Linked DNA regions of Homo sapiens. The protein of the gene in region 2 interacts with the protein of the main gene of each other region in a biochemical or structural test. Each region holds a gene or a part of one and is shown on either strand. Other genes may lie near its edges. The genes, in order: CAMSAP1 and SPTBN1.

What was found.
Region 1: the proteins of SPTBN1 (region 2) and CAMSAP1 form a complex in vitro, tested with the Homo sapiens proteins (one study listed by IntAct).

Annotation. Positions count from the first base shown.
Region 1 is NC_000009.12:135,809,947-135,813,861, forward strand, and holds part of CAMSAP1 (calmodulin-regulated spectrin-associated protein 1), read right to left. Parts: intron 1,666-3,915; coding exon 1,363-1,665; 3' UTR 1-1,362. UniProt on the Homo sapiens protein: Key microtubule-organizing protein that specifically binds the minus-end of non-centrosomal microtubules and regulates their dynamics and organization. Specifically recognizes growing microtubule minus-ends and stabilizes microtubules.
Region 2 is NC_000002.12:54,627,301-54,631,215, reverse strand, and holds part of SPTBN1 (spectrin beta chain, non-erythrocytic 1), read right to left. Parts: intron 3,120-3,915; coding exon 2,966-3,119; intron 2,284-2,965; coding exon 1,413-2,283; intron 1,325-1,412; coding exon 1,187-1,324; intron 362-1,186; coding exon 1-361. UniProt on the Homo sapiens protein: Fodrin, which seems to be involved in secretion, interacts with calmodulin in a calcium-dependent manner and is thus candidate for the calcium-dependent movement of the cytoskeleton at the membrane.

The DNA.
Region 1 (3,915 bases), on a different chromosome or scaffold from region 2:
AATTTGTCTCTTTTTCTCCCAATTATTGATCTTTTGATTTTTTCTGCAGTTTGAGATAGATTCAAGTAACACTCCCAAGAAAATATGTGCAAAACTAATGTTAGTGGCTCCAGAATCTTCCGGCAGCTGGTCAGTTGCAGCAGTGTCTGGCAGCCATGGCTGGCACGCACCTGCTCCTGGGAATGTCCGCGCTCCACAGAAGCATCAACACCATTGGGACCAAGGCAGAAAGAACCCAAAGCCATCCACTTACTTGGAGTTCTGAAATAACTGCAAATAACCACTTAATTGTTTTTAAATAGGCAACAAAACAAAAGTATCCATCTACAGGGGAAACGGCACGCTCCTCTGAGAGCATGCAGCGCTTCCAGATGCAGAATCCAGACAGGACAAGCCGTGACCTAACAAAACCACTGAAGGGACTGTCAGCTTAAGTGCATCACCTTTTGGGACAAACATGCTCAGAATGAAAAATATTCTACTTTACCAAAATCTGTCTTTATTAAAGTGAACAAACCATTAGAGCACTACCCAAAACTTAATGAATGATGGCTGCAGTTGGCTCGGCTTGCCTACTTTAAATGAGGCAAACATCAGCTCCTAGTGCCATTCCCCACCCTCATGACCGCGTGCCAGAAGTCATCATCTTCACATTTGTAGACGTTGTTCTAGCGGAAGACAGGCTTTGCAGATTTCGGTGCTTTTAGTGAACTGGTGTTTTCCGTAAACTTTTTCTGAGCAGCAAGGGATAAGAATTTTTTTTCAGAAATCTTAGAATTGGATATAAATGTTGGCAGTAGACACAACCAATAAATATCATACAATTTCTCAAATGAAAAAGATTTCCCATTATGAATTCCTTTGCTATAGACATTCAAACACCCCAAGCCAAGATTGAGCCTCAGTCCCATAGTCACGAGATTACAGCTGGCCAATATGAGGGTGTCAGGCAATGTGCAAGGGGGCGAGGTGAGAAGCAAGAAAGCAAAGTGGATCACGTCTAATCTATGCTGAAGGAGAACTTCAAGTAAGGGAGCTCCGTGGCCCGGGACCTGGCTGTGAACACCCTCCGCTGGGAGCCTCAGTGGTCAGCAGTGGCCACAGCAGTGCGAGCCACTGCAAAAGCGGCATCTACTCCCCCATCCTCACCCTGCCTGGCATCCTCTGCGTGAGATGAGCGCTGAGAGAGGGGTTTTCTTCTGCTGTCTAGAAACCTCTTTGCAAAAGGTCTGTGACTTTGCACACTTCGTACCCAAATAGATGAAAACAATAAATAAGGACCCCGTGGCACCCTCTGGATGCCAGCCACAAGGGCATCATTTACGAGTCTGGGTCACCCTTTGGACGCCAGCTGCACCGGGGTCATTTACGAGTCTGGGCCTTCTTTGGCACTGCAGGCCGCTTGGGCTGCCACAGGTGGTTGTGGATTGTGAGTGCGTCCACACTGACAGACATGGTTTTGGCTGGGATCAAGTTAAACTGTTTTCGGTCTGAGCTGTATTTATACAGTTTGTCGATCATTTTCTTGGTGATGTTCTTTGGCCCCGTGCCAGTGAGTTTGTAGATTTCCTCAGTATCAGGATAGTAGCAGTAAAGCGCCCTGAACTGGCAGCCAGCATCACGAAACAGTATGATGTAGTGATTGGCATCACACTTCTCCAGCTCCTGTGCAGAGAGAGAAAAGGGGAAGAGACAAACACTTCAGGGCCACTCCAATTGCCACGAGTTGGGCTCCCACAGCGGCTCAACCAGCACCGCTCCGTGGGAAGCTCTCCCACCCGTCAGCTACGGCCTGCCTGTTGTAAACAATTACAGCAGACCCCTGTACGGGAGCATTATATGCCATTGAGACTTTACTTAAGAAGTCTAAGCAAGCAAGGGGGAAAAGAATGCTTTTACGATTAAATGGAAAAGCATATGAAAAGATGCTCATCATCAGCCACCAGAGAAATGCCAGTCAGAAAGAGACGTCGCGTCATGCCCACAAGGACGGCTGGAACCCAGAAGCAGGGCGGTAACGAGTGCTGGCGAGCCATGGGGCTCTTTCACTGCCAGAAGGATACAGAGCACAGCAGCTGCTGTGAAAAACAACTTGGCTCTTCTCCAAACCATCAGGCAGTTACCGTGGGACCCAGCAATTCCTCTCTCACATATGTACTCAAGGGAAATGAAAACACGCATCCATACAAAACACTGCATATAAATAACAGCACTATCCCTTCACAGGCAAAAAGTAGAAACGAAAATATCACATGTACCCCCAAAAGCATGCACATCTGTTCCCTATCAATAAAAAATGTTTGAAGAAGAATCAACCCAAGTGTGCATCAGCAGATGACGAGATGAACAGCATGGGGTCGGAGCATGCAATGGAGCATTACCCAGCTACAAAAAGGAATGGAGGTCCGGTACACACTACACTGAGAAACCTCAGAGCATCACGCTAAGTGAAAGAAGCCTGACCCAAAAGGCCATATAATTATGATGCCAGTTATGTAAATGCCCAGAACAGGCAAATCCATGGAGACAGACTGGCGACCGCCAAGAGCTTGGGCGCGGGAAGACTTAGGGGGGTGACTGTTCACGGGCGTGGAGTTTCTTTTTATGAGGATGAAAATGCTCTGAAATTAGGCGGTGGTGATGGTTGTGCTACTCTATTAATGTACTAAAAACCACTGAATGGTATAACTTAAAAGGGTGAATTTTACGGTATGTGAATGATATCTCATAAAGCTGTTTGGGCCGGGCGCTGTGGCTCACGCCTGTAATCCCAACACTTTGGGAAGCTGAGGTGGGCGAATCACTTGAGGTCAGGAGTTCAAGACCAGCCTGGCCAATATGGTGAAACCCCATCTCTACTAAGGATACAAAAATTAGCCAGGCGTGGTGGCACATGCCTGTAGTCCGAGCTACTCAGAGAATCGCTTGAGTCTGGAGGGGTGGAGGTTGCAGTGAGCTGAGATTGCACCACTGTACTCCAGTCTGGGCGACAGAGTGAGACTCCATCTCAAAAAAAAAAAAAAGAAGAATCTGAAGTATGACAAACTGCTGATGCCTGTCGCCGCGTTTGTTGATTGTATTTTAAAGTTTAAAACGTATCTTCAAGTGTTTTGGTAACTTTTAAAAACAAACCCTCCACACGCCTGGGAATGGGAGTGCACCTGGGTCTGCCCTCACAGTTCTCCACATGCGGCCCAGGCATCCTGAGGCCTTCCCAGGAATCTCAGGGTCAAGCCCTCGACCTCGAAAGGCTAAGGCCTCATCGCCTCTCCCAAGTGTGCGGCAGAACCTTCCCAAGGCCCTGGGCTGTGTGGTTGTAATGGACGGAGGGCCCGAGCGGCTGAGATGCCAGCCCTCTTATGTCAATGCCACTCTTCTATTTATTTGGCTTTAGAAAAGTTACTTTTCATAAATATGCAATGTATCAGCATATAATGGGGTTTATTATTTTAAATAATACGTATTTTTTAAAAGAATCCAAAACTGTCTATATAATACTGATTTCAACCCTACTCACTGTGTTTAAATATGAACAGAATTAGATGCCAAAAAGAAAGAAACATTTAATTTGTAGCGACAGCGGGACTGTGGGGAGTGGGGTTCATCTTATTTACTTATTGCTGCCTGCACGATAAGGAAGCGTGTGGTGCCCACAGCTTATGTGGCACAGCTGAGAGGGCTGCTGTCCTAGAAAGGCCTGCCTGCTGGGCGGCCCTTGGTGGGCACCTGGGAACTTGCTATCTGCAGAGCTCGCTCCCAGTCACTCACTGGCAAGACAGGAGGGCCTCCTGAGCCTGAACTGCTGGTCTGCACGCTGACGCTGGTTTCCTCCCAGGCGTCAGGCACACTGCTGCACACTGGGCAGGGAGTGTGCCTTGTGACCAGCCCCCAAGGAGAGCTCAGGGCATCCAGTCT
Region 2 (3,915 bases):
GGCCTCTCGGTTTTTCAGGGTGGTCTTCATCTCCTCCCACACGTCGCTGATCTCGGCCAGCCGAGACAGGATGGCCTGGGCCTGGTCGGGGTGCTCGGACTCCAGCTTCTCCGCCTCCTTCTGCAGGTCACTCAGCTTTGCCTCAATGGCCACCAAGTCCCGCTCCATGCCGGTCAGCTTGCGCTGCAGGGCCATGACGCCAGCCAGGTCATTGCCCAGGTCCTGGGTGGACTCGATGACCTTGGTCTTTTCCCGAATCCAGGATTTGGTTTCATTGCACTCGAGGTGGTAGTTCTGGATGCTCAGGGCAGACAGGAGGGCATCCTTCTTCCTGTCAACCAGTTCTCTGAACTGGCTCCACCTGTGAGTGCAGGGGCAGACAGCGAGTGTGAAAAAGGGAAGACTGACCATGGCTGGATTGCAAAAGGAACAGTGATGGGTTAATGCTGCTTATCTGTTTTCTCCATCTGTGCTTTGACTACATGCTTTTTTGGAAAATCATCTCACTCAAACTGTGAACACCAAATATAATGGAAATAGCTCAGGGATGCAATGTAATCTGGAAAAAGCCTGTCACGAAGAGGAATGTGTTACAGAGCTCCAATGTGAGCAATTACAAGATATCCATTCCCAGAGTCAATTAATTCATGTCTGTGACACATTTTACACATCTCTGAACTCTACCTAATGAACGTTTTCCAAATCTAAGACTGATGGTAACCTTCAAAACTGGGGCCAGGTGCCATAACCTACTCAAACATGTTTACTCAACAGAAAGATAAGACTGGAACAAAGGTCTGCCCTGACAATCAGGACTTTCATTGGCAAATTAAGTGTTAAACATGCTAGAGTCCTGTTCCTGAAGTTACTATAAAATGGATAGCACAGGTGTCATCTTAATACCTTCTACACTGGACACAGGTCAAACCAAGGCCCTAACTTTGGTGTGGCGAGGGGCAGATGCTGGGCTGACTCAGATAATCCTCCTGCAACCAATGATGTTGCCCTGAGAGACACTTCTTACAAAACAAGGACATGTCAAAAGGCAGGTGCCAATGCCATGACATCAGTGTTGCAATGTCGATGACCCCATGTGGGAAATTCCCAACAGCAAAGCTCGATGAGTGACCTCACCCTCCCCAGTCCCACACGTGGGAGGCTGGCACACTGCTGGCCACGTGCTCACCTTGTGTTGAGTTTGTCCTGCTGGGCTTTGATTTCCTTCTCACTTGGGTGGCCGCTGTGCATCAGCTGGCGTGCAATCTGGTTCACCACTGCAACCCGGGAAGCCTGGTTGTTCATTTCTGGTTCTAGGCTCTCAAATCTGAAATGGCAATTTGACAGGGTGGTCACCTCCTGGGCCACTGGTGGTCACAAGGAACAGGCCAGTGGCTGACCAGCGCCCCGCTCACCTGTGCTGGATGACCTCCAGATCCTCCAGCTTCTCTGGGATCTGCATGTTGTTGAGCCACTGCTCCTTCTCGTCGATCCAGAGCTCACAGGCATCAGCCTCGCTGAACATCTTGTACAGGGCCAGAGTGTCCTGGAGTGCCTGCTTCCGCAGCCGCGTCAGCTCTGCCACCTCCTTATACCGCTCCTCGATGCCCGACAGCCTGCCCCTCACGTCTGGAGACTCGGCATGCTCCTGGGGGAGGGCGCTGGCTTGTTCGTGCAGCGTGTCAAGGGTGGGCCTGTAATTGGCGATCTCTTCCGCCACGTCCTTGTGTTTCTTGACCAGAGACTGTGTGGAATACTCATCGTGGCCCACGTCGCTGCTGGAGACAATCTTGAGGATGTCCAGCATCCAGGCATCAATGTCATCAGCATCTGCCTGGAACTGGTGCAGCAGGGAGGCCTCCTCCAGGCGCTTCTTCCGAATGGCCGAGAGCTGCTCTAGGTTGGCCCACTGCTCCCGGATGTAAATGATCCTCTCACGGATCTTCTCCGACCCGAAGTGCTCCTCCGCGATCATGTCTTCGCCTTCCTTGATGGCCTGCTCAAAGTGGCCACTGCGGCCGCTCATCTCGTCCTCGAACGCCCGGTGCTTGCTGAGCAGGCGCATGACGCTGGTCAGGTCTTTCCCGTAATCGTCCGAGGACAGGATCTTCTCCTTCTCCCGTATCCAGCCTTCCTCTTCTGCCATCTCCCAGAAGAACTTCCAGAGGCGGCGGGACTCTTCCAGACGGGCCCTGCGCTCAGCCGCCAGCTGGCAAAGCTCTTGATAACAGAACTCCATGTGGGCCACGCGGTCTCGGATCACCTGGGGGTCACAGGGCTTGTAACCTGTTTAACATCAAGGAAGGAACGTGGCTGTGTGAGGGAGCTCAGCATGGGTGCAGGCTCACTGGCAGGCAGTAAGCTACACCCCATATTCTTATGATTACCAGCTCACTGCTAAATGTAAATGCAGGGCCATGCGATAAGGCAATGGAGCACCTTCTAACAACTTGACTAGAACAGGAGTGAGGGCAATGATAAACATTATTTTTTTTTGGCCAAACCGCAGACAAAGTGATCATCCTCCTGCAAGAAAGCACTTGAATCATATGAAAAAGGCAGCTGCATATAATTGTTTCTAGAAATACACGAAGCATAACCAAATCATTCTAAACATCCTCCAAAGAGAGGTATATGCAACCAGCTGTGAAAGCCAGGAGCTGCTGGAACAGCCACACCAGGGTGTCGGTGCATGGCCAGAGAGACTGAGGTATGACAAAGTCTCACTGCCAAACACCAAGCCACTCAAAGCAAAGGCAGCATTTGCGTATTTAAGGAAAGGATGTATCAATTCCAGAAAAACAAGATGGAGTTAGTGTTCAGAAGGCCACTCCACCGTATTTCATGCTCCCATGACAAACCCACCAGGAATGTATAGTGGCACAGTAACTTCAAAAGCCCCACTGTGTTTCTATAAATATGAATCTCTGGTGACCCGGAGGTAATGCTTGGAATGGGCCATCCTTACCTTCCCCGTCTGTTGCGAACTTCTGGGCGGAGGCATTGACACCTCTCACCCGCTCTGCCTGGATGCCAATGTCTGCTTCAACCAGGGTGTGCTTCTGTAACAGGTCTTCCACACCAAGTAAGTGTTTGCCATAGTCTTGAGACAATACTAGCACCTGTGCACAAGAAGCAACCAAAAGGACATCTGTGACTATAGCCTTGACTTCAGCATCACATCATCTTTCGACAAGCAGAGAGCCAGCAATGAAGCTATGCCTTCCCTCTAGTCTGCCATGGACCCCACACCTTCAGGGGAAGATGATGGCCAACAAACCAGAACAAAACAAATCATACCTGAAGGCCTGAGTCAGGAGAGCTATCACAAACTAAGGATCACCAAACTTGGAATAAGTAAGTCAAATCTACACTAAAAAGTGCAGAATAGAAGAAAAAGATGGTGAGGGCCAGCGGGGCCAGGGTGGGGGGGAGGGGGCAGTGGGGAGCGTGGGCGGGGGTGCTGTATGAAAGATTCCAAAATATAAACTGGAGCTTCAAGAAGAAACCGCTGCAACAACTACTCAAAAATAAATAAATAAAGGTGATAGACTTGGTCACTTCAAAGTTGAAAGAAATCTTTTAGAAGTTGCTGAGCCTGTAAGTGAATGTTTTTCCTCTGTTAGGAGCTTATTGGTATGCCTCTACTGTACTTACACAATCAATGGGAAAACAATCTACTTGAAAAGCTTACAAGCCACATCTTTAAACCAATAAGGAGAGCAGGGTCAGGTGGCTGTCTTGCTTAGTAGACCCCAAGCAACTTCTAGAGTTTAAGTTTGAACCCACTGATATTTTCTTGTTTCTTCCATCAACCAGCGAAATTTGGGGGCCTCATTCTACATCCTCGCCAGATGAGATTTCTACTTCACTCTTACTTCTGAGGAAGTCTCTGGACCAACTGAGTTACAATGTGCA